4 separate regions of the Homo sapiens genome follow, and regions 2, 3 and 4 are each reported to be linked to region 1. Evidence: microRNA targets listed by miRTarBase, many of them from high-throughput screens and not tested one by one. Region 1 holds a microRNA gene; each other region holds the end of a gene's coding sequence.

The links. The annotated mature microRNA hsa-miR-1233-5p reads AGUGGGAGGCCAGGGCACGGCA and lies in region 1 at 3,606-3,627, opposite strand. An mRNA with a match to its seed (bases 2 to 7 or 8) in the 3' UTR can be bound and repressed. Matches are read on the target gene's strand: a 7mer-m8 pairs with bases 2 to 8, a 7mer-A1 pairs with bases 2 to 7 and ends in A, and an 8mer does both.
Region 2: the mRNA of PLAGL2 is a reported target of hsa-miR-1233-5p. Seed matches in the 3' UTR shown: 7mer-m8 at 4,013-4,019, 7mer-m8 at 5,772-5,778 and 7mer-m8 at 6,030-6,036.
Region 3: the mRNA of SCAND3 is a reported target of hsa-miR-1233-5p. Seed matches in the 3' UTR shown: 7mer-m8 at 4,978-4,984.
Region 4: the mRNA of AHR is a reported target of hsa-miR-1233-5p. Seed matches in the 3' UTR shown: 7mer-m8 at 3,501-3,507.

The regions. Positions count from the first base shown.
Region 1 is chr15:34,524,742-34,532,691 of GRCh38, forward strand. It overlaps MIR1233-2 (microRNA 1233-2), which reads right to left and starts at 3,630; the gene lies at 3,549-3,630. It overlaps GOLGA8B (golgin A8 family member B), which reads right to left. Exons shown (of 24, transcript NM_001023567.5): 12 at 7,220-7,258; 13 at 6,907-6,954; 14 at 6,734-6,818; 15 at 6,528-6,637; 16 at 5,441-5,527; 17 at 5,226-5,333; 18 at 4,921-5,008; 19 at 4,277-4,533; 20 at 3,866-4,009; 21 at 3,631-3,731; 22 at 3,448-3,548; 23 at 3,181-3,336; 24 at 354-3,093. The coding sequence ends at 2,891.
Region 2 is chr20:32,191,371-32,199,320 of GRCh38, reverse strand. It overlaps PLAGL2 (PLAG1 like zinc finger 2), which reads left to right. Exons shown (of 3, transcript NM_002657.3): 3 at 1,639-6,817. The coding sequence ends at 2,869. Among named protein-coding and RNA genes, the nearest start is that of PLAGL2, 12 kb to the left of the region's middle. RefSeq lists an enhancer at 2,256-3,018 and a silencer at 7,802-7,950.
Region 3 is chr6:28,566,106-28,574,055 of GRCh38, forward strand. It overlaps SCAND3 (SCAN domain containing 3), which reads right to left. Exons shown (of 4, transcript NM_052923.2): 4 at 4,430-7,722. The coding sequence ends at 5,806. Among named protein-coding and RNA genes, the nearest start is that of SCAND3, 17 kb to the right of the region's middle.
Region 4 is chr7:17,341,371-17,349,320 of GRCh38, forward strand. It overlaps AHR (aryl hydrocarbon receptor), which reads left to right. Exons shown (of 11, transcript NM_001621.5): 11 at 1,551-4,777. The coding sequence ends at 1,694. Among named protein-coding and RNA genes, the nearest start is that of LINC02888, 30 kb to the right of the region's middle.

The sequences.
Region 1 (7,950 bases):
TTAAATAACAATCATCATCATCCAGAAATTTAGGGACTCAGCCCTGATCGAGGGGGCAAAGGGTCTGTTTGTCTTTCCCCATTAGACAGAGGTCTTGTCCTGCTACCCTAATTGTAAAGGGGTGCCTGGGAAGGGGTGGTAGGGACATGGTGGCGGTGGAGACTCCGGCCCCACTTCTCCAGGCTTTGCTGACAGGGGCCTGCTTTTAATTTTTATTTTTATTCCATGACTTTTTTAAATCCCATAACTTCTTTTTCATAACTTTGTTTTGGTAACTTTTCAGAAAACGTTTTTCTACTTTTTTGCCACAACAGTTTTACATTTTTTATCCAATAACTTTTTCACCCCATAACTTTTTTAATCCCATACCTTTTTTATTTTGTGTTCTTTTAATAAACACTTGCATAGTTATACTACAATTTTGTGAAAATGAAACAGATTATCTCATGCCAAGCATGCCCAGTATTTGCACAGTATCAATACCTTTAATACTATAATTTTCAAGATGCGCAAAATAAAATTTTAAGGCAAAAACAGCACTTTGCAACAATTTAATAATTTATCACATTACAGTAGCATCACACCAGCAGTCAATAATGCCACTTTAGGCAAAAGTCTTTCAGTATTTCTGTTACACATTCTGTTAACAAGAACCCATACATTGGTAAAATTCATTCTAAGAAAACTTGGCAAACAAAGCTTTGGACTGGAATTGGCATTTCTTTCTCTACTTTTCCTTCCCACCATTTCTTTCTTTTAAACTACAGTATTCATATTTTAAAATGTTTTAACTTATTTCAGAACATAAAGATAGCAGTTACACTTTTAAATATTTATATTATTTTAAAATGACTCTTTAGGATACAGTTTTAAACCCACGGGCTAGAAATCATACCACTATTAGCCACATTATTTGGTCTAATATTTTTTCTTTATTATTCTGAAACTGGGTTTATCTAATACATTGATAAATTCATACAATTCGGAAGAGTCAGTTGAAGTCACAAGGACCCAATATCTGCCCTCTTTCAGTGAATGCCGGCAAATCTGTTATTCCATTGGCAAAATCGTATTGCTGCTCTCCTGTTAATCTCCTATTTATAAAAGGATCATGAGGCTGCCAAGTGCTAAAAATGGAGATGGTCTAGTAACTAGAAAACTCCCCACCCCAGGGAGCACACATACATATCTCCCTACAACCTAATAATGTGATGTGTTTTGGAACACAGACATTAGAACTTCATGAAGTTTTAACTGTTGATTCTTTCCCAAGCATCATCAAGTTATGATTTAGGCAATGTATGATTGAAATGCATTCACTCATCACGCATAGGCACAATCACAGAAATATTGCACAAAATATGTCCCTGACTGAAACTGAGAGGTACAAAAACATATTTCACTCTTCGTAAAGAAGTTTGTGAGGAAATACAACTCTGCGATCGTATAGACATGTTTCCTGATAATACATTGACATTCACAAACAGTAGATTGCAGCACAGTGTGTAAACATTTTCAGTTGCATAAACTTCTCCTTGATTTTCAAAGATAATATAATACTGTCTACTAAAATTCCTTTTTGTTTCAACTAAGTACTCTCACATATATTAGTTTATAATAATGTTTGTTATTATTTTCTAAAGTGTTTTCCACTCAAGGAAAAGAAGTAAATTCCTATGTCAGAGTAACCGAGGTGGTTGAAGAATAGGTATTAGCCAGAGAGGTCTAGATAGTAAAATCAAACTTCAAGCCTCAAAGAAGCTCCATGAACAGAGAGGAATGCCAGGTGTCACACAGCTTTCCTTCACTCTAATTCATTCTTGACTAGAGCCTGTATGCCTGTTTCAGAGACATTTAAACTCTTAAAGGATGTCTTATGATCTTTACTAAATACATTAAGAAGAATGCCAACCAGCGCCCTTTCGTGTACTGGGACAGGTAGTCATGTGATTAAAACAGGGAACACGAACTCTGACTTTAAAATGTATTGTAGATACAAATGCTCTAAGCTAGGAAAGGTTTTCCACATCCACAGCCAACGATGGCAGCCTTTCATTCCTCGGAAATAAGCCATTTTTAGGTCACTGAAAAAGAGTGCAACTGCTGCAGCTCACGATGCAATATCTTCATGAGCCCAGAGCACATACAAATCCAAAGGGAACTGCCACAGTACAGTGCTCATTCTTGGCACCGGAACAGATGAAACACACTGTATCCTGCACATACCTGCCAGAGCAGGCCACTTTCCTCTTCTGCGAGATTTAGAAAGCTCCCCCAAAAGGTTATCACTCCCATCACCAATACACAGAAAATGGAGGAAAGGCTGTTTCCAGTTCTCGGCCTTTAAACAGCTCTAAGTGTCAGTACTCATAGTGGCATATTACAAAGTAATAAACAGTGCACACTTGAGGGCAAACCGCATATTGAGCTATGGAAGAGCTCACTGTGATTAAGATGAGATCAAACATCATAGCAGAACATTAGCAAATTTTATCTGAATTCTGTAATGAACATCCATGCTGCAATAACATTAAAAAAGCACGGGAGCCTATTCCAAACCAGCGAGAACAGTTTTGTGCAAAGAGTGGGTCTTTGTGTGTTTGAACTCCCACCACGTAAGGGCAAACTCGATATGCATGCTAATGACCTACAATTATGAAATGAAAAAAGAAAAATGCTAAAGGATGCCAGAGTGAACATCAGTGAGAGGCACAGAGACCCACTCTCTTTTAACTTTTTACAAATAAACTTAAACTATAAATTAGAAACACAAATAATCATGAGTAGCTCTAACATTCAAATGAAGTAAATGAATTGTGTAGGAGATTAACCCCATAACTTTGTTTCGTTTTTAAAAATTTCTTGAGCAGCTCTTTGATGATGGTGGTGTTTATCTCCTTCTTCTCGGCAGCCAAGCCCAGCAAAAGCATGGCACACAGCAGTTGCTGCCCAAGCCTGGGTGCTCCTGGTGGTCCTGCATCTCACCAAGGAGCTGCAGGACTGGCTGTGCAGTAGGGTTGTCCTGGGAAGAACCCTCCCTGGCTTCTCCTTGTGCAGGCTCCACGCTGTTGGTGAGGCTCGCCTCACAAAGATCTTTGGAGAGAGAGAGGCGGGGATCTGAGTGGAGTGCTAGCCGCCCCCCGCTCCTGCCTGCTCACCCCGCCTGGGGGCTCTACTCACCACCATGCTTGTCGGCAGCCCCGAGCTCCTGGGGGGCTGGGGCTCCTGGACTGGGTTCAGCAGCAGGGTTCCGGGCAGCGGCCAGGAATTTGCCGTGCCCCTCGCTGTAGCTGCCACAAGCCGCAACACCATCTCCTGCAGCTCCAGCAGCTTCACCTGAAGGGACGGGTGCTCAGCTGTCAGGCCGCTGCTGGCGCCCACCCTCATGCCCACCCCACCCACACCCCCACCCCACCCCCACCCCCACAGGGATGTTGCACACCCTACCTTCCTCTCCTCCTTGTCCTGGGCCAGCCTGATGATGGCCTCCTCCCGGTGACGCATCTTTGGCACTGTCCCCTGGCTCTGTTAGAAGGCGATGTACTTTCCTGCGGGAGGACAGGGCTCAGACGCTGGGGCCCCTCCCATAGCCCTGCAGCTCCCCCTGCCGTGCCCTGGCCTCCCACTCACTGATGGCATCTCTCTCTCCGGTACTGGATGAATCCAAGTTCCAGTTTCTCCACATGCTCCCTCAGGTCCGCCTTCTCCTCCAGGAGGTCCATAAGGCCGCTCTGGAGCCAAAATAATGGGGTCACATCTCAGCAGCGACCTGCCCCAGCCCTGCCCTTCTTGGCCCATGCTAGGACTCACTCCCCTCCAGCTTCTCCATGACTTCCTGCAGGGCCCGGAGGGTCTCCCCACTCACAGACTCGCCCCCAGTCCCTGAGGCTGGGACTGCTGCCTCTGGCTCCTTCTCGGCCGAGGTGAGCGTCTCCATCACCTGGCCCAGCTTCTCCTGCAGCTCCTTTACTTGCTGCTCCAACTGCAGTGCGCTCTTGTTCTCGTGCTTCTGGACAGAGAGAAGCAATCAGCAGCCACCCACTGCAGCTGGAGACCCCAGAACTTGGTGTCTGCCTCCCATGGCACCGGGAAGGGTGGAGCCAAGTTAGAAAAATACTCTCCTCTCTCCCACAGCCACCAGAGCAAAGCTCTGGCTCACAGGTGCCTTTGGAAGTAATATTTCATGTGAGGGCTACACTGCCCCATTTTACAGGTGGGGAAACAAAGGCCTGGAGGGCTAGGGAGGAGGGCAGGCTCCCCAGGTGGGGCAACCCACCAGCTCCTCCAAGTCGCTCTGTGGCTCGGCCAGCTGCTGAAGCCTCTTCTCCCGTTCCCGAAGCCTCTCCTGCTGCTCCTGAAGCCTCTCCTCCTGCTCGCGAAGCCTCTCCTTTTGCCCACGGTTCAGGAGACTGATGCACTGATTGTTTTCCACCTGAGCCTGGAGCTCTCCTGCCACTCTCTCCAGCTCCTTCCTCAGGTCTTGCAGCTCCACCTCAGAGGACACTGCTGGGGCATCCGGGGGCAGTGGCTCAGCTGAGAAAGGAAGCAGATCATAAGGGCCTCTGGATTCTCAAAACAAAAATCAAAACAGAAAAAACAACAAAACACCCTCCTGTTGGCGCACAGCTCCTCTCAGGCTCCCAAACTTGGCTTCACTGCTAACGATCCCTCGCACCCGGATGGTAGCCAGTCTTCCAAACCACTTTCAGATAGAGAGCACTGCGGGTGGCTGACAACGGGCCCTCTTTGCTCATGGGGACACTGAGGCTCAGGGAGATGACAAGACTTGTCTCCTGGCACAGACCTCTTTCCCTCTGCCTCAAAGCCCTGCCATCCACCCACCTCCCTGGGGCACTCTAAGCCACCCCCACAGCCCTCTGATGCCAGTCCTGCTCCCAGGTCATGCCAGCCCCATCTTACCCATCTGGTTTTTGAGTCTGGACAAGCTCCTCTCCAGCTCCTCTACCCGATGCGTATCATGCTTCTTCTCCTCCTTCAATGTGCAAACCTGCCCAAAGCACAGGGGGAAAGGGCCCTGGAGAGAGGGGCTGGTGGCTGGACAGGCTCCCATCTCCCTCTCTGCCCCCACCTCCACAAAGCCCAGACCCAGGACCACCTCTGGCTGCACTATTCCCATTTTAAAGAGGCCCAGAAAGATCCAGTGACCTATCTTAAGTTGTTGGTGGGGGGGGGGTGGGGCGGGAGGCTGAAGGGTCAGATCTCACCTCCTGCGACATTTTCCTCATCCTCTGCTGCCACTGGGCCCTCTCTCCTTTTATTTGTTCAGCATATTGATCTCTCTCCAGCTGGACTTCTTTAAGCGACTCCTTCAACTGCAAGAATGGCCACACAAGTTAGGAAGGGCCGTCACTGGTCCTCACCTGCTCCTGGCCACCTGGGGTCATCTTCCTTCCACATCCCTCCCTCTGCAAAACCTCACCTGTGTCACGTGTCCTTTCAGCAGTATCTGCTCCCGTATGGACTGCTCTAACTGCCGCTTGAGAAGTGCTTTACTGCGGCTCGAGAACTGGATGGTGAAGAGTGAGAAGTTTCGATCTGGGGAGCCTGGGCCATTCCACACAGTGCCCCTTAAAAGGGCTAGGGCTAGGCTCAATATACAACTCGGTCAGTAAAGATCAAGGCATTTCCAAGCCCGTGGTCTGGTTTTGAAAAAAACTCAGTGAAGTTGGAAGGGACAAGGAGAGAGATCAGATAATATTGCTATTGTTATTACTCCCACTGTTTGAACCTTTATGGAGTGCTTCAGCAGGTACCTTGCTAGCAATCCCATTTAATCCTCGCAACCACCAGAGGAGACAGTTACTATGATGCCCTCTCTTGGGTAGATGAAAAAACATGGAGTGTTTGAGGTTAAGTGCTTGCCTAAGATCACTTAGGCAGAGCTAGGATTTGAACACCCAGGTCTATCAGATTCTCTAAGCCCATTTTTCTGCTGGGGGTGGGGGCACGGTTAGGAAGGGGAAAATTAATCTTTTGTTCACTTTTTGAAAAGATGATACATTCACATAGTCCAAAACTCGGAAGGTATCAAAGGGAAGTATCTCCCAGCCACCCTGCTGCTCTCTCCTGAGTTGTTTACGAACACTTGCAGACATGTTTTATGTATATTATCATACTATGTACACACACACACACACACACACACGTTTCCTCTCTCTACAGAAATGGGAACATACTAAAGGTACCCTTCTGTACCTTCACAGTACAAGTACCCAATACCCCACACCCCACCTAGGACTTGGCCAAGACCACAGCCAGGTAAGGGCAGGGCAGGCACTTGGCCTCCAAGCTCTGCATCCAGTGCTCGCTCCCCACCGCGCCCCCCGACTCACCCACAGCAGCTGACTCAGCCTCAGGCTGCCTCTAACAACCATACACAAAAGCAGTGAGAAATGGCCATGCTGCCTTCTGGGCAGGACACTCCATCCTGCAGAAGGGACCTTTAGGCTCACTCCTCCATCTGTGAAGCCGGGCTCCCAGGGGACAGGGCAGGTGACTGGACTCACCCCATCCGGCTTCTTCTTCTGTGTGGCGGCGACAGCACAGAGAGACCACTCTAACTCTCCTATACGCTGCGATGAACGTTGCAGGCGGCCGGCCAGATCCTTGGACTCTTCTGTAATGACAGAGTTGACATGGGGCTCAAAGGACTCCGCCTTACAGACCTGTCAAAGTGCCAGGTTGAAGGATGACAGGGTGCCCAGATTCCCACCTTCAAAGTATCTGAGAGAATGTTTCATGTGATACAGGTCCGTATTTAGTTTCTTTTTCTCTGTGTTCAATCTCTGGATTTGACCCTTTGGGAGAAAAGCCAAGCAAGTGCTGAAATAGAAGGAAAGAAACATTCTCCGGAGGACAGGAGGAAACTTCACACCCTCCACTCACCTCTAGCTCCCTTTCAGCTTTCTGTTTCTCATTGTTTGCTTTCTTTTCCTATAGGAAGAGGAAGACAGAGCTCTTACCAGGGGGAGGCAGAGAAGGCACAGCAAGAGATATGCCCCCAGAATGCCACCAATGCCCCAGGACAGGCCCACCCATGGGACCCGGTTATCAGGGACCCTGTGGGGATGGGGTGGAATCTGAGGGGTGAGCCTCCTTCCCCAGGCTGGGAGTGGGTGAGACGAGACTGGGGCCTCTACATCTGAGTGTCCCCCAAACCCAGCAGTCATGTCGCCAGCAAACAAAGAAATCACGTTACTTCTTCCAGCTGATGTTCCACTTGTTTCTTCTGTTGTTTCTGTGGGGAGAGTCAAATTAAAGTGATGGAGGGTGGCCCCCTCAACTCTATTCCCCAGACAGGAAGCGGCAGGCAGGGGCCAGGAATGGATTTTAAAGGCAAAGTTCTCAGACCCAATGGGAACAGGAACTGTTCCCAAGCTCCCAAGGACAGAGGATTTGGGTCTTTGTTGGTTTTCAGCCACAGCCTCACAACTCAAAGTCTGAATCAGGAATCTCTTGAGAGGACAGTAACATAAACCTCTAGAGATGGAGTTTGAGAAAGGCTCCCCCTTCTGCCAGCTTGTGATTTAGAAAAGTGTGTTCATTCAATAGACATTTACTGAGCACGTACGGGCCAGGGACGGTTCTTCACAGCCGATATAGGATGGAAAAGAACAGACAAGAGCCCTTGGCCCTGAGCTTTCCATTCTAGGGGGCCTTTAAATCTCAGACTCTCAGAGCTAACAGAGACCTTTGATACTCACTACCTCCTCTGGAAACACGAGCCCAAAAAGGAGAGGTGGCTTGTCCAGAATCAAAGAGCAAATTAGGGACTGAGTCATGGCAGAAATACGGGGCCCCTGACAACCAGTCAGGCCAGCACTTCCCCAAGAGGCAACAACCCCAGGGCGTGTGTAGCAAGGACTCGAGTAGGGGTGCCTGGAGAGGAGAGAGTCGGCAAAGAGGGCAGCAAAAGAAGAGCCATGCTGC
Region 2 (7,950 bases), not on the chromosome of region 1:
GACAGTAACCCACATAGGCACGAGCACTCTTGAGCATGCATATGTGGGATGTGGGCAGGGGGTGTGTTTGATACCCTCCAGGTAGAAAGGATCACAGAGTGCTGTACGAGAGAGAGACAGCTGTTGCATACCTGACTGAACATAGGTCTTCCGAAGGCCTGTTTAAATTCAGCCTCTGCTAGGGTGAGGGGGCTGCCTTTTTTTTAGACTCCTTTCCTTGTCTGGAGATCAAGGTTAATGACACAGCTTATGCAGAGCCTGGCAAACAGTGGGTGCTGAGTTGATTCTGAATATGCTCTGGAGCTGTGAATTGCAGTTCCTGGATTCTGAGCCACTTTTCAACCATATAGGATCAGGTAAACCAAGGGACACTGAAGTGCCATACCATTAAAACATTTCTTAAAGTGTTACTGGTTTATATGACAAGCAATTCAAGTGGTACATACTGGCATGCAGTGAAGAATGAATGATCCTCACACTCGAAGTCACTATTCCTCTCCCCAAAGGCAGCTGGTGGGTTGGTTTTTGTGTATCCTTCCTAAGACATTCAAACATGTATATTCTCTTTCTTTTTTATTTTCAAAACAGATTGTATCACATGTACTGTATTGAACTTCCTTTTTTGACTTAGCCCTGTATATCTTGGAAATTTGTTCTAGATAAGGAAGTTTATTTATTTATTTAGAGACGGAGTCTTGCTCTGTCACCCAGGATGGAGTGCAGTGGTGCGATCACAGCTCACTGCAACTTCAAATTCCTGGGCTCAAGTAATCCTGCCTTAGCCTCTTGAGTAGCTAGGACTACAGGTGCATGCTGCCATGCCCATCTAATGGTTAAGATTTTGTAGAGACAAGGTCTCGCTATGTTGTTCAGGTTGGTCTGAAACTCCTGGGCTCAAATGATCCTCCTGCCTCACCCTCCCATAGTGCTGTGATTACAGGCATGCACCACTGTGCCCAGACTGCACGTTTAGGTATATTTTATTTTCTCTTTATTGTATCATTTAAAATTATTTAAATGTAATGTTTAAAAAATGAAATACTTTCACGTAATTCAAAATTCAAAAAGTACCAAAACTTATACGATGAAAATTCTCCATGACACCCATCTATAAGCTGTTCGGTTCTTTTTCGCATAGGCAGCCACTGGTATCAGTTTCTTGTATGTCCTTCCAGAAATATTTTAGCCATATACAAGCAAACATACATATATTTTTCCCCTTTTCACATAGAGTCCTAGTCTACATCCACTATTCTGCCTCCTTGCTTTTTTTCTACTTCCTGTCTCTTAGGAGCATGTTCCCTGTAAGTACACAAAAAGCCTCATTTTTGAAAAGTTGAGTCATTTTATGGACTTATCATAATTTATGTAACCAGTTCCCTATTGATAGATTGGACGTTCAGATTGTTTCTGATTTTTTTTGCTACTACAAGCAATGCTGCAAAGAATGTCGGTACACATTATTTTGCAGATAGGCAAGGATATCTGTAGAATATAACTGGTTTGGTATTGCATTGCAAGCCTTTACCATGGTTTTTATATCTAGTTTCCTGTTAATGGACACCTTTGGTTGTCCAGTCATCCCTTGTGATCTCCCCTCTTTCTGCTTTCTCCCCTATCCCCTGTCTCTACCCCCAGGCACATGGCCACCCACTCAGCCCAGAAACCCCACCAGTGTATGTACTGTGATAAGATGTTTCACCGCAAGGACCATCTGCGGAACCATCTGCAGACCCATGATCCTAACAAAGAGGCCCTCCACTGCTCTGAGTGCGGTAAGAATTACAATACGAAGCTGGGCTACCGGCGCCACCTGGCCATGCATGCTGCCAGCAGCGGTGACCTCAGCTGCAAGGTGTGCCTGCAGACCTTTGAGAGTACCCAGGCCCTGCTAGAGCACCTGAAGGCCCACTCACGCCGGGTAGCAGGCGGTGCCAAGGAGAAGAAGCACCCCTGTGACCACTGCGACCGGCGGTTCTATACTCGTAAGGATGTACGGCGGCACCTAGTGGTGCACACAGGCCGTAAGGACTTCCTGTGCCAGTACTGTGCCCAGCGGTTTGGCCGTAAGGACCACCTGACGCGTCATGTCAAGAAGAGCCACTCGCAGGAGCTGCTCAAGATCAAGACAGAGCCCGTGGACATGTTAGGCCTACTCAGCTGCAGCTCCACAGTCAGTGTGAAGGAAGAGCTGAGCCCTGTGCTGTGCATGGCCTCTCGGGACGTAATGGGGACCAAGGCCTTCCCTGGCATGTTGCCCATGGGCATGTATGGTGCCCACATCCCTACCATGCCCAGCACGGGCGTGCCACACTCCCTGGTGCACAACACGCTGCCCATGGGTATGAGCTACCCTCTGGAATCCTCACCTATCTCTTCCCCAGCTCAGCTCCCTCCAAAATACCAGCTTGGATCTACCTCATACTTGCCCGACAAATTGCCCAAAGTGGAGGTGGATAGTTTTCTGGCGGAGCTTCCTGGAAGCCTGTCTCTCTCATCCGCTGAACCCCAGCCCGCCTCACCTCAGCCGGCGGCAGCTGCGGCCCTCCTAGATGAAGCACTGCTTGCCAAGAGCCCCGCCAACCTCTCTGAGGCCCTCTGCGCTGCTAATGTGGACTTCTCCCACCTACTGGGCTTTCTTCCACTCAACCTGCCCCCGTGTAACCCACCTGGGGCCACAGGAGGCCTGGTCATGGGCTACTCCCAGGCTGAGGCACAGCCCCTGCTTACCACTTTGCAAGCTCAGCCTCAAGATTCCCCAGGAGCTGGGGGACCACTGAACTTTGGGCCTCTGCACTCCTTGCCTCCTGTCTTCACGTCTGGCCTGAGTAGCACCACCCTGCCTCGTTTCCATCAAGCATTCCAGTAGCCCCCACAGAGGCCCTCAGCTCAGTTTTTGGCTCTGTTATGGAGCCTTAGTACCCACCCCGTCTGTGTCCCCCATGAAGGCAGCTGAGCTTTCAGAGCTGGGTTCAAAAAAAAAAATTCCAGTGTCTGTATACAGGAGCACTTGGTTTGGGGGTTCAGGCTCTAGGATCGATTCCAGAAGGAGCCTTGAGCCCCAACCCCGTGAAAAGATCTCATACCGTAGGACTTCAGGTATTATTTACTTTTATTTTTTTGACCTGAATCGGGAGCCACACTTGGCCCTCTTCCTCTCCAAAGCGCCAGAACCTCCTTCTCTTTGGAGAATGGGGAGGCCTCTTGGAGACACAGAGGGTTTCACCTTGGATGACCTCTAGAGAAATTGCCCAAGAAGCCCACCTTCTGGTCCCAACCTGCAGACCCCACAGCAGTCAGTTGGTCAGGCCCTGCTGTAGAAGGTCACTTGGCTCCATTGCCTGCTTCCAACCAATGGGCAGGAGAGAAGGCCTTTATTTCTCGCCCACCCATTCCTCCTGTACCAGCACCTCCGTTTTCAGTCAGTGTTGTCCAGCAACGGTACCGTTTACACAGTCACCTCAGACACACCATTTCACCTCCCTTGCCAAGCTGTTAGCCTTAGAGTGATTGCAGTGAACACTGTTTACACACCGTGAATCCATTCCCATCAGTCCATTCCAGTTGGCACCAGCCTGAACCATTTGGTACCTGGTGTTAACTGGAGTCCTGTTTACAAGGTGGAGTCGGGGCTTGCTGACTTCTCTTCATTTGAGGTCACATTTTTCCCCCGTGGGGAAATAAACTGACTTTGGACTGCTTCAGTCTCTGCCATCTTCCATGACTGCATTTGTTCCTGCCTGCCTCGGCGGTATCCACAGAAGACAGGCAAGAGGATTGGAGCAGTTTTCTCACAGGTCTGCAATTCTGTTTTTCTCCAAGTACATTATGACCCCCTCATCCTTCTCTTGAACTGGAGAGGGGAAGAAATGAAAGGCATGCCCACGTCCGTCACCTCCCCATCCCCTAGTCCCCACCTTGAACATCATGAGCTGTTGTTATTAGTCTTGGAAGCAGAGTCTGGGTTGGTGTGGATAGCAAAGGAGGAAGTCTGAGCCCCTCATTGGTCTTCCTCCCACCTGTCCCTTTTCCGGGAAGTTGTGGAATTGTTGGAAGAAGAGTTTGCAGAAGGTTAGGAATGGGTAGATAGCTAAGTCCTAATCTATGGGTACATTGTTGTGTCCCAAACCAAAATTTTCCTTATCCACAATGTCCCTTCTGTCTCTTCCACTTTACAGTGGACTCGGCCACTGTGCATAGGCTTCTCTGCTCTCCATCAAATCACTTCCACTTTCCTGTGCCCCCACCCCCGCCTCCAGTTTTCCGCTAGTATCCGGCAAGGTTTCTTGCAACAAATGATTAGTTCTTTTCTTCTGACTCGTGGGGCTCCCTGCTGCAGAGAGCACAGCCCTTGCCTGGAGCCCAGGAACCCCATCCTTGCTTCATCTCAGTTCTTCATGGGCTTCACTCTTCCCACTCACGGAAGGGAGGTAGCTCAGGGACCTCCACTGTGGGACCCTTGAGACGCTTCCACTCTGATTCAGAAACACACTTCTACCTCTTTACTGTTAACTCTTAACAGATGCAGTCAGCAGTTTCTGGGCACTTCTCTCAGTAGGTGCCTCATGCTGACTTCTCCAGTAGGGTTTCAGGACAAACTACCAAGGAATTGCCTCAGCCTCCTACCAGTCCTCCCTCACCCACCTTCTGTCTAGGTTCACTTGGTTTGTCATCAGGAACTGAGCAGGTCCAGGACTCAGCTTTCTGCTTCAGCCTAAGCCAGTACTCCTTGTTTGAGGTAAAAGCCTTAAAATTTAGCTCCCTAGCTCTTGATTAGAAGCAATTTGGAGTAAGTGTGTTTTGATTTAGGCAGGGTAGCTTGGGATACCTTTTTAAAAACACCAGATATTAAAATGTCTGGCAAGGTTAGAATCAGACTAGATGATTTGCTTCTAAAAATTAGTTTCAGTGAGTCCCAGGGACTAATTAAGGTTTATTTTAAAAAGTGTCTACCTTGGTACGCAGCCACCTCCTGCATGCTGTGCATGTTATTGGGACTTGTATTATAGGTGATGGTATGTGAGAATCCAGTTGGGACTCGCTGTTGCCATCCTCTTTGTTGTATCTGGTTTTCATCACTAGACTCAGCAACCCTTCTCACCTTAACTGCCACCTTCCCTACACTCTCAGTTTACAGAGGCCACTGGGCCTCTGGCTGCAGAATACAAAGTCCCGGGCTGTTAGAGGAGTCCTTTCCTCTCTGCCTGCCCTTTCCTGTCCCTCCCTCGAATTCTCTCTCCCCGTAAGTGATGCTGGAAAAGTCATAGGACTGGCAAAGCAACTGTTTAAACCCTTTGTAACCGGGGCCTTGCCCCCACCTCCTGTCTTTTCTCCTTGCCTTCCCCACTCCTGTGTCCTCCCATCTATCCTGTCTTTCCTTTCCTCCTCTCAGTGTCCTCAGCACCCACAAGGAATTTTCCTATCACTGTGAACTTTGCTGGTACAGAGGAATAATATCTGCCTTCACCTTTTTTTTTTTGGACCATAGCTAGCCAGTCATTTCTTAAACCTCCCTTCCTAAAATCTGGGGGGTCGGGGGGAAAGAAAAAAAAAGCCTTAGTGGCCTGGTTGTTCAAAGGATAAGAATAGCTTTATCCTGCACTCAGTACCCGAACTCACTTCAGTATGCTTACTGAGGCCATGAGAACCTGAGGGGCATCTGCCCAGGACAGGAGCCATGGCATATGACAAAGACCAATGAGGGACCAGGAAAAAAAGTGATGTCCCCTTTCCCTGCCACCTCCAGCCTCTGCCAGCAATGAGCTGTCCCCCTCCCACCCTACACAGTAGCTGGTCAGGGCTGAGTACAGTCCTGGGGGTAAGGGGATGACATGCCCAGGTGTCAGCTCAAAGGATCTCTGCATCATCTTGAGGTGGGAGGCAGGGAAAGGAGCGCCAATGAGGTTCCCTGCAACCCCCGCCCTCCAGCCCACCGCCCAACCTTTTACAAATGGCATTTTCTTAATTGAAAATCCGGGAAGCAGGTGTGATTACTTTTTTGCTCGTAGATATTGTCCTAAGTTGGAATTCTCCCACTGCCCTAAAACTTTCCCTAGTAGTCCTTTAAACTCCCCCCTCCCTTTTTGGTAGCTGTTTTCTCCGTCCTCTCTCCACCTGCCCTCTTATCTAGGAGCTGTTTGTAAGCACGATTTTTTTAACAGGTTATATTGTACAGGATCAATATTTTGCTTTTTAACAAGGATATTTATGTAATAAGAAACTTTGCCTTAGGCAGGTGTTGGCCAGAAAAGTCCAGATTCCTCTGGGATCCCACCCTGGCCTCTCCTGGAACTCTGAACCTGCTGTGGAAGGAATTGGCCATGACCTTCACCTCTGGAGAGTAGGGTCTATGGCGAGGGAAAAGGGTGTTCACCATGATAACCTAGTGCCTCCATAGAGGGGTTTGGAAAAATTCCAGTCCGATTTCTTTGTGTGTCAGCTGACTTCCTTAGCTGATTGTTCCCACTTGCACCTCTCCACCTTTGGCACTAGAACTCCTGAGACACCACTTCTCATGCTTCTCCCTCCCTACCAGCGGTCAAGGCTTTGGAGCCACTCTTTTGTAACTCCAGATTATTTAAAGAGAAAAGTACAAGACAGAAATCTTCTAGCACTTTGTAAACACAGTGAATAACCTCTTGGAGTATTTTTGGCTTTATATAAAACAAGGTTTTTAATTGTAAAGTATAAGTGCCATTAGAAAATGCACAGGGCATATCTTTGTTAAAGTAGATTTTTCAATGTTTTACAGAATTACATTTTCAAAAAAAGGTTTTTATAATGAAGTTGTTTATTAAAAACTTCTGAATGATGTGTTTGGGAGTTGTGAACCTGTCTGATTGGGAAACGGTTGGAGAGAGCCTCGAATTGGGAAGAATTGGAGTCTCCAGACATCTTTAGCATCCAGGATGATGGTGAGCGTAGGGCAGACAGTAAAAACCCCTCCCATCAGCACCTATAAGCTTTGTACTTTTAAGTTAAATATCATATTTGCATGTCTTTGAGGTAAGTGGCATAATTCTATCAGTTAATCATCTTGGATGCAAGAGTCAGACAGCCAAAATCAAACTGGCTTTAAACACTGAAATTGCATGTAACTGGAAAATGCCAGATGTAGAGCAGTCTTTGGGTTAGGCTTGATCCAGTGGCTCCAACATGGCTGGCCTCAGCATTCCTATTTCTCTCTGCTCTGTCTTGTGTAGTTGTGACTTCATCCACAGGCCCTACAAAGTAGATTTCCCCTTTGTGTGGGAGTGAGCAGAATGCTGCCTGGATTCCAGACCTGCCATTCTCACACATTGCCAGCCAGAAGGAAGCAACCCTTTCTGGGCTCTCAGGAGAGGACTCACCACAGAAGCCCCAATAAGCATCCTGTTTCATTGGCCTTGATGGGATTCTGTGCCATCCCCAAACCAGTTACCATATGCCAGTGACAACAAGACTGAAACAGGAGTGGTTTCTCAAAGGAAATTTGGGGCACTCTTAAGATGAAGAATTGATGCTGGTTGTCCAAGAAAGGACAAATGTTCACCCTAGTCACTGCCCAAGGTGTACAGCTGGTGACAGCTAGGACCTGACCTTACCTATACTTGTGCCCAACCACCGGGTTCAGGCAGACTGCTGAGAGGCTTACATAGCTTCACCTGACTTTGGTGGTCTCTAATGAAGGTCGTTACCACCATCCTGGGTGCCAGCCCTTGTGCTGAGATCCTCCCATCAGGGGCTCAGACTGAACTGGCTTTTCTGTGGTCTGGAGCCAGTGTCTATGGCCAAGCAGTGCAAGTCACTTGCAGTCCAGCCAAGAGCCTATGGGGCCGTTAACAAGTGCAGGTGTTTTATGTACAAAGGAAGTGGGCTGACCCTTCATTTTTGACCTTCCACTTGACAAATGTTCACTGTCCACCCCAGTAGGTTAAAACCCTAGCTAGGACCCTAAGGAAATCCACCTTG
Region 3 (7,950 bases), not on the chromosome of region 1:
GCAAATTTTCTCCTGTTTTTGTTTTTAAATGTCTCTAAGCAAGTATTGACTTTTGCTCTTATTCTAGACACAGTTGTAGCATAGTATGAAACCTCTATTGGTGTATTTGAGGAAAGAGAGCATTTTCCTTGGATTTTCCCTCTGCCTCCTGTGGTAGAGTTGCAAAGGAGGAAGTAAAAGCTGAAAAATAACAGAAGTAGGGTCAGTGGCCAGACTGACTGACGCCACTGACCAGGCCTGAATGTAAAAGATTAACCCCCACCCTAACCGCATGTGCGGTTAAGCTCTGGTCGATTCCAGACATTGTATGGAGAAGCATTGTGAAACTTTCTGTTCTGTTCTGCTAGCCCTCACCACTGATGCATATAGCCCTCAGTCAGGTAGCCCACGCTTGCATAATCAATCATGACCCTTTCACGTGGACCCCTTAAAGTTGTAAGCCCTTAAAAAGGCCAGGAACTTTTTCTTCAGGGAGTTCTGTTCTTGAGACGCAAGTCTGCTGATGCTTCCGGCCGAATAAAGCCTCTTACTTCCTAAATCCGGTGTCTGAGAGGTTTTGTCTGCGACCCATCCTACTACATATTTATTTTATCTTTAAAATATTTTTAATTTAAAAAATTTGAGGGATAGACAGGATCTTGCTCTGTAGCCCAAGCTGGAGTACAGTGACACAATCATATCTCACTCTAGTCTCAAACTCCTGGGCACAAGTGATCCTCCTGCCTCAGCCTCTCAAAGTGCTGGGATTACAGGTGTGAGCTACTTCACTTGGCCTCTACTGGTATTTTCAATACAATTGCTAACTGGCACCTTTATAATATGGAGCCTTTCAGATATGTCTGTAGCAGGACAAGCTGCAGACAAAACCCCTCAGACACCGAGTTGTAGAAGGAAAGGCTTTATTCGGCTGGGAGCTTCAGCAAGACTCACATCTCCAACCACCAAGCTCCCGGAGTGAGGAATTCCTGTCCCTTTCAAGGGCTCACAGCTCTAAGGGGGTGCGTGTGAGAGGGTCATGATCGATTGAGCAAGCAGAGGGTACGTGACTGGGGGCTGCCTGCACCGGTAATTAGAACAGAACAGAACAGCACAGGGATTTTCACAGTGCTTTTCTATGCAATTTCTGTAATCTATAGATAGCATAACCGATTAGGTCAGGGGTTGATCTTTAACTACCAGGCCCAGGGCGTGGCACTGGGCTGTCTGCTTGTGGATTTCATTTCTGCCTTTTAGTTTTTACTTCTTTCTTTGGAGGCAGAAATTGGGCATAGGACAATATGAGGGGTGGTCTCCTCCCTTACATCCACTTTCTTGAATCCCTACTCCCATTTATTCAGTTCACACCATTATCATAAATCTATTCCATTACAAAATTCTTCCTAGTGTCCTGCTGTCCTTCAGCATTCCAATCTATTTTTTACATTGTACCTGGAAAAGCTTTGCTAAAATGTAACTCAAGTCATCTTCTACTTATCAATCTTTTATTGACTTCCCAGTGCCCCCAAGATTATGGCTAAACTCCTCAACTTGGTTCATCTTTATGAACCAGCTTCTGTTCTGGCCATCTTTTTCCAACCTACATCATCTTGCATTTCTTTGTGCTCCTGTCACTCTGAGTTCAGTTTTGGTTCCTCAAATCAACTGAAAGAAGGTTTTTCTGCTTTCAAGTGGAAGAAGAAAATGGCAATTTGAAAAATTTGCTCTCCCAAAGAGATTTCAGCCACAAATTCATTTGCATTTAAATCCTAAAATAAAGCACATCATTATTTCAGCATAAACTCTTAAAAGTCATGCAATCCAGCCGGGCATGGTGGCTCACGCCTGTAACCCCAACACTTTGGGAGGCTGAGGCGGGCAGATCACCAGGTCAGGAGTTCGAGACCAACCTGGCCAACATGGTGAAGCCCTGTCTTTACTAAAAATACAAAAATTAGCCTGTTTGGTGGCGCATGCCTGTAGTCCCAGCTACTCTAGAGGCTGAGGCAAGAGAATCACTTGAACCCGGGAGATGGAGGTTGCAGTGAGCCGAGAACATGCCATTGCACTCCAGCCTGGGCAACAGAGTGAGATTCCATCTCAAAAAAAAAAAAAAGAAAAAAAAAGAAGTCATGCAATCCATAACAACCTCAGGCTTTTCACCTTTATATAATTTTAATGAGCCGAAGGTTTGATTATTAAAACAACTATAACTCCTATTACTCTCTCAATCATAACAAATTGATCATAAATTCAATTTAACACACATATGTCAGAATACAAAGCACACAGTATGTTCTTTGAACCAGTAAATAAATGTCTTATTCTTTATCATAATAATTTCTAATTGTATAATGTTTGAAACTTTCACAATCTTTCTATCTTGGTGAACACTGGCAAAGACATTCTGGGAGTTATTCAGGAGAGATTCACTGCAGAAAGTACACAGCCATATATCAGAGAAGGGACACTTTCTAACAGGGATCCTTTTAGAACCTGACTCAAGATTCTTTTGTCTTTGAAATATCTAAGCAGCCAGCCAAACCAGAACAGCCAAACTCCAAAAGCCCAGAGTTTGACTGCACCACTGAGATCACTCAAGTAATCTCTACCCTCCTTTCTCTGCCATAAAAGCCCCACCCTGGGTTTCCCCTCACTTTGGTTCTTTCTCAAGTTTCTCACCAGCAGAGCTGAAGGAGAAGTGGTCTTTCATCCAGGTGGCTGGGGTAATATAGAGGAATCTGGGTATAAGGTTGCAAAGGCCATCAGGCCCCTTAGCTGCAATTCCCTCTTGTATCCTGCTTCCTCAAACCAGGGCTAGACCAAAGACTTCAAAATATGTGCACGCGCGCACACATACGGGTACCAAGGGTAAATTTGTAATTTGCCCTCTAAGCCCCAGAATTCAAGCTTTCTCATTCTTTCATGGGGACCATGTGAGAATTCTCCAAGATATTTGTGGGGGCCTTACCCACAAATATATAAATAGATAGATAATGGCTTTTACCTCCTTCATCTGTCCATAGCTATAAATGCCCACAGGCTTTGTTGGAGAGTTCTCCAGGCTGAAGGACAGTTTTCCTGAATGTGACACTAGCCGAGAGGTCAGAATTAATTACATTCCTTGGTGTCACCTGACCCACAGGAAACTTGCGTATCTTTGCCACCCCAAATTGTGAGACTACAGACTGAACTACTGCAAGTCTAATCGCCTCCCCTCCCCACCCCACCTTCCCTTTTATTTTCCTGATAAAGTAGGCAGAAAGCAGATGAACAAGTTTGCTGCCTAAATTAACACCCAATCTGGAAATAAAATACAAGTCTTTCCTTCCTGAAGGCATCTTCAATCACTACCAGTGATTCCTTTGGCAGAAAGCACAATTTTGGGAGCTAGTTCTACGACTTCTTAATCATCCTTCAAGTTAGGTCTGGGTGTGTGCATGGAGGCAGTGGGTGGTGGGGTTTTCTGATTCTAGTCATTGTCAGATTTCTTTAAAAAGTGAAGTACTTAGCGTTCCCTTGACCCATCTTTGACTCCTCCCTAGTTGCTGTTCTTTGAGTAATAGGAAAAGCCCAACACAACCTCCTGTTATACATAAATACAATTTTTTAAAACCAGCACATATATACATGATAGATGGAAATAAACAGTACTGCATACAGTAGTTGTAAGTATACACAAATAAAGATACCTTTGCATTGTATTCATATACCACGTTTATAGACATGTGAACTTGCTGCAAAACAAGCAGAAAATAGGAAGAGAAAATCAGGTTATCTACAGAATCACTAGTCATCAAATTCACGTTAAGAATAGGCAGTAAGATTTCATGATCTCAATAAAAATCTCAATAAAGCTGTTGCCCTAAAAAAATTTACAGTGAGACAATAAAACAGGGAGGTAAGGGAGGAAAGACAAATATTCCTATGTCTTAAAAAAAAGGTAAAGCAAGTTAGCCTCCTGGCACTGAATCATTTGCAGAAAAAAATAAAAATAGTTGTTCAAGTATATGAGAAGGCTTTGTACCAATCTCAGACATCCAATACTTTATATTTCTTAGAGAGAAAGTGAAGGCTTTGTACCAATCTCAAACATCTAATACTTTATATTTCTTAGAGAGAAAGTAAGGGAATTTAGTTCTCTTTTAATATGTACTCTTAATTCCCTCTTAATTTCTTCCAGACTACTTTAAGTTTTTATAGAAATAAATATAAAATCACCACATTGCCTTTTGAAATTAAAAATGGGAAACACAATACTTTATTCAATCAATAAAACAAACTGTAAAACATTTTAAAATCCCTTAGTTCTAGAATATGGTCAGATAAGAAAGAGGGCATATAATTTGTCAGTGGGAGAAATTAAACCACTGTCTTCTAAATCTATCCACCATGATAAGGTTTTTTGTTTTTGAAAAGCTGTAAGATTAAAACAAACACACAATAAAACATAATCCAATTAAGGTTTCAGGACTAAATATGAACCTTTCCTCTACTTTCAAAGGTTTGGAGGATCCTTGAAACTTCCATTACCAAAAGGTTAAATTATTAGTAACATTCTGAATCACTAAATAGCCTTCCTTTCCTTAACTTTGAATATCACATTTATTTGAAACGAAGCACTTACTGTAAATTGCTACCCTGTCTAGGAAAAGATATTTTCTTCATGGATTCTGTCATGTTTTGATGCTAAAGAACCTGTTTTATCGGACTAATTTGCTTTCGATTATTCTAAATGAGTTCACAGACACAAGAGCAGATATTTGTGGCATTTTTCTGAATCATCTCCAAACAAAATAGAGGTTGTTAAATCTAATTGAGGTGCCAATAATTTCTGACTTTGTCCCAGAGCACCTTAAAGGCAATCAGTTCTAGCAAAATCTAGAAACCACCTAACATAAACTTGTCAGTATGGCCCAATCGCCCATCCTTATGAAATCAGAATTTATCGGCCGGGCGCAGCAGGTCACGCCTGTAATCCCAGCACTTTGAGAGGCCGAGGTGGGAGGGTCATCTGATGTCAGGAGTTCAAGATGAGCCTGGCCAACATGGTGAAACCCCATCTCTACTATAAATACAAAAATTAGCCAGGCATGGTGGTGGGTGCCTGTAATCTCAGTTACTCGGAAGACTGAGGCAAGAGAATCACTTGAACCCAGGAGGTACAGGTTGCAGTGAGCAGAGATTGCACCAATGCACTCCAGCCTGGGCAACAGAGCAAGACCCTGCCTCAAAAATAAATAAGTAAATAAATTTATCAATATGAATCCAAGGCCATAACACCATTACAAAATAAGTGTTCCCTTCCATCTTTGTCTAAACATGCACCTACAAAACAAACAACATCAACTTCCAACCTAACCACTCTGGATCAGTTTAACAAACTTCATACCCTACTGACCTGTCCCCTGCATTTGAATTCTAAGCCTACCCCTTTGAATTCACTTCCTTTCACTGACCTTGTCTATTTCAAAGAAACCATCTCCCATCCTGAAGTTGTCCTACAATCTTAACATGCTAATGAAATACAAGAAGAAGACACAAAATATAAGATCAAATGTTTTAATATTAGAATCAACAGATTTAAAATTATATTTTAATAAATACGACAAATATGAGGAAAAATAGAATTATAAAAACTGTACACATTCTTAATTGAAAATATACATATAGGCAATTTATATAGAAAATTGCTGTTTCACTCATAACTTCTCATACTTCCATAACTGTAACTAGACAGAAAGTTTAAAGTGAAATAGCAAATTCCTCACACTCAATGCTTATATGCATACTTTGAACCAATACCTTACATATCAATATTTAAAGCTTTTAATGTGATAAGTGAGCTTGCTTCTTGCTTGTTAATTTGTCTAATCTAGGTTGGATTGATGACAATGCTACCCTCAGGGGATAATGTATATTTAAACTGTTTCTATGTTTTGTTTTAATAACACTTAAAGTAGAGAATCCGGTCTCACAGAGGTATGTTGAGGGGAAAAGAAGCAGCAATTTTAAAGCAATCTCAGCAAGCTCAGGATAGTCATTTTTAGCTTTTATCCAAAATGAAGGAAGTGATGCTGTATTTTCAAAACTGATTTTCAATCCTTCGTCGGTAGCCAGCTTCAACAACTTATCCTGTAGAGTTACAGTTAAATTTAAGTTATCTTTTGATGAAAGAAATGGATTTTGGATCCACAAATTTCCTATGCGTGGATCTTCTTTTGATGGAAAATAAAATTCAAAACATTCTAACAAATTTGTAAGATGTTCACTGATAACTTTTCGCAGATGTGCAATATCAAGATCATTACCTACTTCATTGATAATTGTTGTTAAATTATGAAACATGTCATAACAATCTGTAGAAATTCTGTTTTTCCAAGCTTCTAACTTCTGTTTTTGTCCTTCAACTTTATCTGCCATTGAAAAATAAGTTGCATTCTTCCCTTGCATAGAAGCATTAAGATCATTAAAAATACTGAAGATATCAGACAAATAAGCAAGTCTGGCTGTCCAATTCACATCTTTAAAAAGTTGGGACCACATGGGTTTCTTGCCTTGCAGAAACACTAAGAGTTCATTTCGTATTTCAAACATTCTTGACAGAACTTTTCCCCGTGATAACCACCGTATCTCAGCATGCAGTAACAGTTGCTTATGATCAGCTTCCATATTATCACATAATAAAGAGAATAATCTTGAATTCAATGAATTAGATTTTATATAATTCACAATTTTTACTATATCATTAAGTACACTATTTAGTTCAGCTGATATTTTTTTCATGGCAAGACTTTCTCGATGAATGAAGCAATGTGTTGTTTTACATTCTGGCGCAAGTTCCTTAATCTGGGTTACCACTTCAGAATGTTTTCCTGTCATTGAAGCTGCACCATCAGAACATACTCCTACACAAAATTTAAATTCCAAACCACATTTGTTAACAATATAATTCTTTACAGCTTCATACAGTTCTGAGCTAGTTGTGTTTGTAGGCAAAGAGGCTGAAAAAAAGAACTCTTCCTTTATATCATCATCATGTTCAAACCTCACATAGACTAAAAGAATTATCATGTTAGCAATATCTCTGCATTCATCAAGTTGCAATGAAAAATACTTTGCTAGTTTTATTTGTTCTATGAGTTGATCTTCCATATCATTAGCCAGTTCCTGAATACGTCGAGCTATGGTGTCATTGGAAAGTGGTACCTGAGCTACCTTCTTTGCTGCAGATTCACCCAACATTTCCAAGCAAACTTCTTTGATGCAGTCTTTCACTAGTGTCTCAGCAATTGTGTATGGTGTTTTAGACTTGGCAACCGGAAGTGCTACTTTATATGAAGCCCGCAAAGCACTAATGTTTATATGAGAAACGTTGAACACCTGCTTTGGTTGGCTTTTCAATTCACTACTCTTTCTTTCAAAGAATTCTTTTGGTTGTGAACTTATTTCTTTATGTTTTGAATATAAATGTCGCTTAAGTTTTGATGGTTTCATTGCTTCATTAGCCAGTACATCTCCACAAATAATACACTGTGGTTTTAGTACTTCACCATCAATTACAGCTACAAAACCAAACTCAATATATGAAGGATCATATTTCCGAGTGAAACTAGCATGAACTCTTTTGGTTTTCCCTTCTTCAGGATAACTTCTATTGTTAACATTTCTTTTATTACTACTACTGTGTTCAGAAAAGGCATGTCTTTTCTTGACAAAAAAGTCCAGTGAAGCTTGTTTCGCCATCTGAAATTAGGAATAAAAGTAAATAATATGAATTTTACTTTCCTCCTTCAGCTAACAGTGTTATACCACAAGTTAAAAACTAGATTTGATTAAAATAAAAAATTATTTTAAAGTTAAGTTATAAAAATAAATAAATGCCTATATTTTCTCAGAGTTTTATACATCTTTGGGTTATGGCTGATAAACGAAACATAAAGTATCACAGGTTGTAATGGGGACCTATTGTGT
Region 4 (7,950 bases), not on the chromosome of region 1:
TACTCTTGAGTAAAGCAAATTGTACAGAAGTTAATTCTGTAAAATTACATTTTGAATAAGGAGTTGCATGAGTACCACATAAGTTCTTTGCAGTGTTTTCCCCTCACTACTTTTCACTGCTTCTTTGTAAATAACCAAATAATTCTATAGACCTACATATGTTCCAGAGTACATGTTATTGAGCTAAGACACTCAATATTGAGCCACTGAGTAGCTGTTCAGCACTTGAAATGTGGCTAGTCCAAATTGAGATGTGCTGTGTGAAGTACACATTGGATTTTTGGATTTTGAAGACTTGGCTTGAAAAAAGAATGTAAAATATCTCATCTTTTATTATTGATTTCATGTTGAAATGATTAGTTTTTTCAGTAGCCGCATTACAAAAGTAAAAAGAAACAGGTAAAATTAACTTTAGAAATGTATTTTATTTAATCTACTGTAGCCAAAAATTTAAGTTCTGTATGTGGCTCACATTATATTTCTATTGGATTACACTGCTGTGTACAGTATGTTTAAAGAGAATGGTGACATGAATTGTGTTATGAGTAATGAGAAAAAATCATTTTAAACTCACCATTATCTGGCCAGGTAATACTAACTTTTTATTTAAAGAATTTACAGTGTTGCCATTCATTGAAGATACAGGTTATATGATTTTTACTATAGATTTTATATATGTTTTGGAGGATCTGTGAAGTAATTAACATTTTGATTACTGAAGCCAGTTATGTAGGCTTTACAAAGGTAGATTTTATTTGAAGCAATTAAGGATATGATTTTAATCTGTTTTAAAGTTTCCAGAACGTCCACTAACTAAAATATAAAGGCTCTGTAATCTATAAAACTCTACAGAGCTATACATCTTCATGTCCTTCCTTTTTATTTTTCTTTTTTCTACTAGCAGTTATAGAAACCAGATTCATTGCAGTGTAAGAAAACAAGACAGAGCATTTTCTTTTGGTAACTTGATTCTGTAATTAGAACTATGCTTTCAGTAGTATTCATTAATTAAAAGTATATTATGAATAAGAAATCGGTTAAGAAAATCATACCTGTGGTGTAATATTTTAGGAATATTTAGAAACATTTAGAAAATCAGAAGCTGCCTTTTTTGGAAAAGTTTTGCATTCCAGTGTAAGATTCCTGAATATAATCAATTCATTGATACCTATAACTTCAAACCTGGTCAAAGCAAACCTACTTATGATAGAGAATATTTAACTGTAATTTGTGACTTGTGCTGTTTGACCCATCAATTCCTACCTGACCCAAAGGCAATCTGAAATGAGACAGCTGCATCACTCATCTGTACCATGTTCAAAATTTCCTGTCAAATTAATGGAAAAACAGGTTATAAATGCAACTAATACATAATATGTCCTCAGTATGTCTTCACTGTGTGAAAGATTTAAAATTTAGCAACAGTAAAGGAACTTGAAGTTTACAACTCTCAGGGGTAAGATTTTAAAAATACATGTTAATGTTATTTACTGGCTTAAGATACTTGGAAGATCTATTCCAATAAGTTGCATCACCATTTTTGTTTTCAGTTTCAGAATGGAGTTTTAAATGAAACATATCCAGCTGAATTAAATAACATAAATAACACTCAGACTACCACACATCTTCAGCCACTTCATCATCCGTCAGAAGCCAGACCTTTTCCTGATTTGACATCCAGTGGATTCCTGTAATTCCAAGCCCAATTTTGACCCTGGTTTTTGGATTAAATTAGTTTGTGAAGGATTATGGAAAAATAAAACTGTCACTGTTGGACGTCAGCAAGTTCACATGGAGGCATTGATGCATGCTATTCACAATTATTCCAAACCAAATTTTAATTTTTGCTTTTAGAAAAGGGAGTTTAAAAATGGTATCAAAATTACATATACTACAGTCAAGATAGAAAGGGTGCTGCCACGGAGTGGTGAGGTACCGTCTACATTTCACATTATTCTGGGCACCACAAAATATACAAAACTTTATCAGGGAAACTAAGATTCTTTTAAATTAGAAAATATTCTCTATTTGAATTATTTCTGTCACAGTAAAAATAAAATACTTTGAGTTTTGAGCTACTGGATTCTTATTAGTTCCCCAAATACAAAGTTAGAGAACTAAACTAGTTTTTCCTATCATGTTAACCTCTGCTTTTATCTCAGATGTTAAAATAAATGGTTTGGTGCTTTTTATAAAAAGATAATCTCAGTGCTTTCCTCCTTCACTGTTTCATCTAAGTGCCTCACATTTTTTTCTACCTATAACACTCTAGGATGTATATTTTATATAAAGTATTCTTTTTCTTTTTTAAATTAATATCTTTCTGCACACAAATATTATTTGTGTTTCCTAAATCCAACCATTTTCATTAATTCAGGCATATTTTAACTCCACTGCTTACCTACTTTCTTCAGGTAAAGGGCAAATAATGATCGAAAAAATAATTATTTATTACATAATTTAGTTGTTTCTAGACTATAAATGTTGCTATGTGCCTTATGTTGAAAAAATTTAAAAGTAAAATGTCTTTCCAAATTATTTCTTAATTATTATAAAAATATTAAGACAATAGCACTTAAATTCCTCAACAGTGTTTTCAGAAGAAATAAATATACCACTCTTTACCTTTATTGATATCTCCATGATGATAGTTGAATGTTGCAATGTGAAAAATCTGCTGTTAACTGCAACCTTGTTTATTAAATTGCAAGAAGCTTTATTTCTAGCTTTTTAATTAAGCAAAGCACCCATTTCAATGTGTATAAATTGTCTTTAAAAACTGTTTTAGACCTATAATCCTTGATAATATATTGTGTTGACTTTATAAATTTCGCTTCTTAGAACAGTGGAAACTATGTGTTTTTCTCATATTTGAGGAGTGTTAAGATTGCAGATAGCAAGGTTTGGTGCAAAGTATTGTAATGAGTGAATTGAATGGTGCATTGTATAGATATAATGAACAAAATTATTTGTAAGATATTTGCAGTTTTTCATTTTAAAAAGTCCATACCTTATATATGCACTTAATTTGTTGGGGCTTTACATACTTTATCAATGTGTCTTTCTAAGAAATCAAGTAATGAATCCAACTGCTTAAAGTTGGTATTAATAAAAAGACAACCACATAGTTCGTTTACCTTCAAACTTTAGGTTTTTTTAATGATATACTGATCTTCATTACCAATAGGCAAATTAATCACCCTACCAACTTTACTGTCCTAACATGGTTTAAAAGAAAAAATGACACCATCTTTTATTCTTTTTTTTTTTTTTTTTTGAGAGAGAGTCTTACTCTGCCGCCCAAACTGGAGTGCAGTGGCACAATCTTGGCTCACTGCAACCTCTACCTCCTGGGTTCAAGTGATTCTCTTGCCTCAGCCTCCCGAGTTGCTGGGATTACAGGCATGTGCCACCATGCCCAGCTAATTTTTGTATTTTTAGTAGAAACGGGTTTCACCATGTTGGCCAGACTGGTCTCAAACTCCTGACCTCAGGTGAGCCTCCCACCTTGGCCTCCCAAAGTGCTGGGATTACAGGCGTGAGCCACTGCATTCAGCTCTTCTTTTCTTTAGATATGAGAGCTGAAGAGCTTAGACACATTTTGCATGTATTATTTGAAAATCTGATGGAATCCCAAACTGAGATGTATTAAAATACAATTTTTGGCCGGGTGCAGTGGCTCACGCCTGTAATCCCAGCACTTGGGGAGGGCGAGGAGGGTGGATCACGAGGTCAAGAGATGGAGACCATCCTGACCAACATGGTGAAACCCTGTCTCTACTAAAAATACAGAAATTAGCTGGGCATGGTGGCGTGAGCCTGTAGTCCTAGCTACTCAGGAGGCTGAGGCAGGAGAATAGCCTGAACCTGGGAATCGGAGGTTGCAGAGCCAAGATCGCCCCACTGCACTCCAGCCTGGCAATAGACCGAGACTCCGTCTCCAAAAAAAAAAAAAATACAATTTTTATTTCTTTTACTTTTTTTAGTAAGTTAATGTATATAAAAATGGCTTCGGACAAAATATCTCTGAGTTCTGTGTATTTTCAGTCAAAACTTTAAACCTGTAGAATCAATTTAAGTGTTGGAAAAAATTTGTCTGAAACATTTCATAATTTGTTTCCAGCATGAGGTATCTAAGGATTTAGACCAGAGGTCTAGATTAATACTCTATTTTTACATTTAAACCTTTTATTATAAGTCTTACATAAACCATTTTTGTTACTCTCTTCCACATGTTACTGGATAAATTGTTTAGTGGAAAATAGGCTTTTTAATCATGAATATGATGACAATCAGTTATACAGTTATAAAATTAAAAGTTTGAAAAGCAATATTGTATATTTTTATCTATATAAAATAACTAAAATGTATCTAAGAATAATAAAATCACGTTAAACCAAATACACGTTTGTCTGTATTGTTAAGTGCCAAACAAAGGATACTTAGTGCACTGCTACATTGTGGGATTTATTTCTAGATGATGTGCACATCTAAGGATATGGATGTGTCTAATTTAGTCTTTTCCTGTACCAGGTTTTTCTTACAATACCTGAAGACTTACCAGTATTCTAGTGTATTATGAAGCTTTCAACATTACTATGCACAAACTAGTGTTTTTCGATGTTACTAAATTTTAGGTAAATGCTTTCATGGCTTTTTTCTTCAAAATGTTACTGCTTACATATATCATGCATAGATTTTTGCTTAAAGTATGATTTATAATATCCTCATTATCAAAGTTGTATACAATAATATATAATAAAATAACAAATATGAATAATATGTTTTAATGTAAATTCTTTCTGGTCCACGTAAAGGAAATTATTTATTCTGTAGTATTATAACTATGTTAGATGAGGGCAATCTACAATACTTAGGGATATGTTAAGTCAGTAATTCATAAACTTCTTATACAATTTTGCCCCCCAATGTCTGACCTTTATCTGGATATAAAAAACACTCTCAGTAGCTTCATAAATTAAAATGCTTCTGAAATGAACTTTTTTAAAGCCCTGTGTTATCAGTGTAGTAGTGTGTCTTAGATTAAAATCCAAAATCCTATTTTAATATTTTAAGAATATTTCTGAAGAAATTCGAAATAACCCTTGTTAGCTGTATTTTGTGCTTAGTTTAGAAAAACCATTGCCCAAACTTAGTATTTCTGTTTAATAAGTATAAATGATACAGAAGCCTTTGGCCTTAAATTCATAACTGTTGAACATTCATGGAAAACCCTGCAATTAGAATTGATTGAAGAAGAATTCCTGAGAAAATGTTTTCATTCTTGTGACAGTTATTTTTCTATTAGTTTTATATTTGTTCTTTACAATTAGGCATTTTTCTCAACTAGCATATCATAAGTTAGCATCATACTTAATTCTGAACATTTTAGACTAATCCTGAGTCTTTAAGAATTACATAAAATATTTAGTTTTAACTATTTGATCTGAAAAAAATCAAGTAAAAATCCTGATAACCTGAGTGCATCTCTGCTTGCGCTTAGGTGATTTCTGTCACCATGAATGACTCTAGCTTGTCCAATTTCACCAGCTCTACCAAACACCGACCCAGGGATGTTGGCCACTGACAGGGCTGGATGACATCTCTCATTTCTTTCACTGTCTGCAGATGACCTTGCTTCCGTTTTTACTAATAAAATCAAGGATATCATCCTAAGTTTGTACCTTCACCTCAGCAATTCCTCTATCCTTGGACTTACCTCCAGTATGTGAGGAGGAGAGTTTCCTGAACTCCAGGGTTAGCCCCCGTCCTCTCTCGTTCTCATGCACACAGCTTCGACACCTGCTTTCTGAGAGGCTCTCCTTCTCTGTAGGATTTCCTGTGAATAGGTCCTCCTCCATCCTGGAAAAAAATTACTTGAACCTGCACTTTCTTCTCTATTAAATTACTTCTTTACCTTCTTCCTTTGTAACAACAGTTTTGATCTCCTGAGATCTGGTTTTGTTTTCCATCCTTCCATTATATTGCAGTGTTGCGGTTCACTAAACTTCTTACCATAGGCTCATTTTCTATGGCCCTGCAACCAAACTGATTACACTTTCAATGAACTTTTTTCTTCCCTTCCATGACATTAGTTGTCCTGTAAGCTCCTATTATCCCTTTTCTTTCCTTTGTTAACCACTCTTTCCTCCTCCCACCTGGCAGCAGGCTTAGTTTTGACCATTTGTGGCTCTTTCTGTACATACTGTCTAAGAAGAAGTGATTCAATGCCTTACCTCTGATTGACATTTGTGAAGCAATTCTTTCCCTGAGAGAGCAGCATAGCATAGCCAAACTAAACACACAGACTCTGGAGTCAGACTACTAGGTATAAATCCTGGCTTTGCCACAAATAAGATGTCATTGAGAAGGTTTCTTACTTTCTCTTAGCCTAAGATGCCTTTTCTGTAAACTAAGGCTAACAGTACCTGCCTCACTGGATTGCTGGAGGATTCAGTGATTTATATAAAATCACTTAGCTGCCAGTAGCCAAAACTGGAATAATTTGAGCAACTAAATAAGTGATGATAGCATTAGATTACAGCACAAAGAATAAAGTAAATATCCATGAATCCATACTAATATAAATAAAATGGTTGAAAAATAAATGGGGGAGAAGGAGCACATCTTTCCTATAGAAGAATCCCAAATAATATTGGTAGCTACTATGCCCTCTGATGCATGAGCTTAGTTCTCCTCCCCTGGAAGGATGAGTTAGACTTAATGACTTGCTTTCAAGGAATAGAGTACAGACAGAGAAGAAAATAACTTTACATTGTTGAAATCTGGCAAGCACTACTTTAACCAAGTAATCAAGGTTAACATCACCAGTGAAAAGTCATGTTGATATAACATGTATTATCTGATATGATACTTTGAGAAGTGTACATCTCAAAGCTCCCTGATTTTCTTAAAAACACATAGTCTAATTATGACAAAACATCAAACGCAAATTCAGGGACATTCCACAAAATTTCTGAGAGGATTTTTTAAAGTGTCACTGTCACAGAAAGAGACTGAATAATTATCACAGAGCAGAGGAGGCTAAGGAGGCATGATGACTGAACTTAATGTGATATCTCCGATTGCATCCTTCATAGAAAAAGGGCATTACTGAGAATCTGCAGAACTCTAAGTCTAGTTAATAGTACCACATCATTGTTAATTTTTTGGTTTTGACCAATGTACCATGGCTATACTACGTTAGAGGTACCTGGCTGAAGAGAGTAAAGGAACTCTATATCCTTTTGACTTTTCTGTAAATCTAAAATTATTCCACAGTAGATTTTACTTTTTAATAAAAGTACAGTTTTTATTGCCACATAGCAAGTATCTTTATGTCTCTCATTACTATTTTCCTGTATCTTCACAACCTCCTCTTAGTTGGAGGTAAAGCTATACATTGACATCAGTCCCCATTAACTACTGATTTGACGAATATCTTTTTTTTTTTAATTTAAGTTCTGGGGTACATGTACAGAATGTGCAGGTTTGTTACATAGGTATACACGTGCCATGGTGGTGTGCTGCGCCCATCAACCCGTGATCTACATTAGATATTTCTCCTAATGGTATCCCTCCCCTAGCCCCCCACTGGTGTGTGATGTTCCCCTCCCTGTGTCCATGTGTTCTCATTGTTCAACTCCCACTTATGAGTGAGAACATGCGGTGTTTAGTTTTCTGTTCTTGTGTTAGTCTGCTGAGAATGATGGTTTCCAGCTTCATCCATGTCCCTGCAAAGGACAGGAACTCATCCTTTTTTATGGCTGCATAGTATTCCATGCTGCCAGTTTTCCCAACACCATTTATTAAGTAGGGAATCCTTTCCCCATTGCTTATTTTTGTCAGGTTTGTCAAAGATTGGATGGTTGTAGATGTGTGGTGTTACTTCTGAGGCCTCTGTTCTGTTCCATTGGTGTATATATCTGTTTTGGTACCAGTACCATGCTG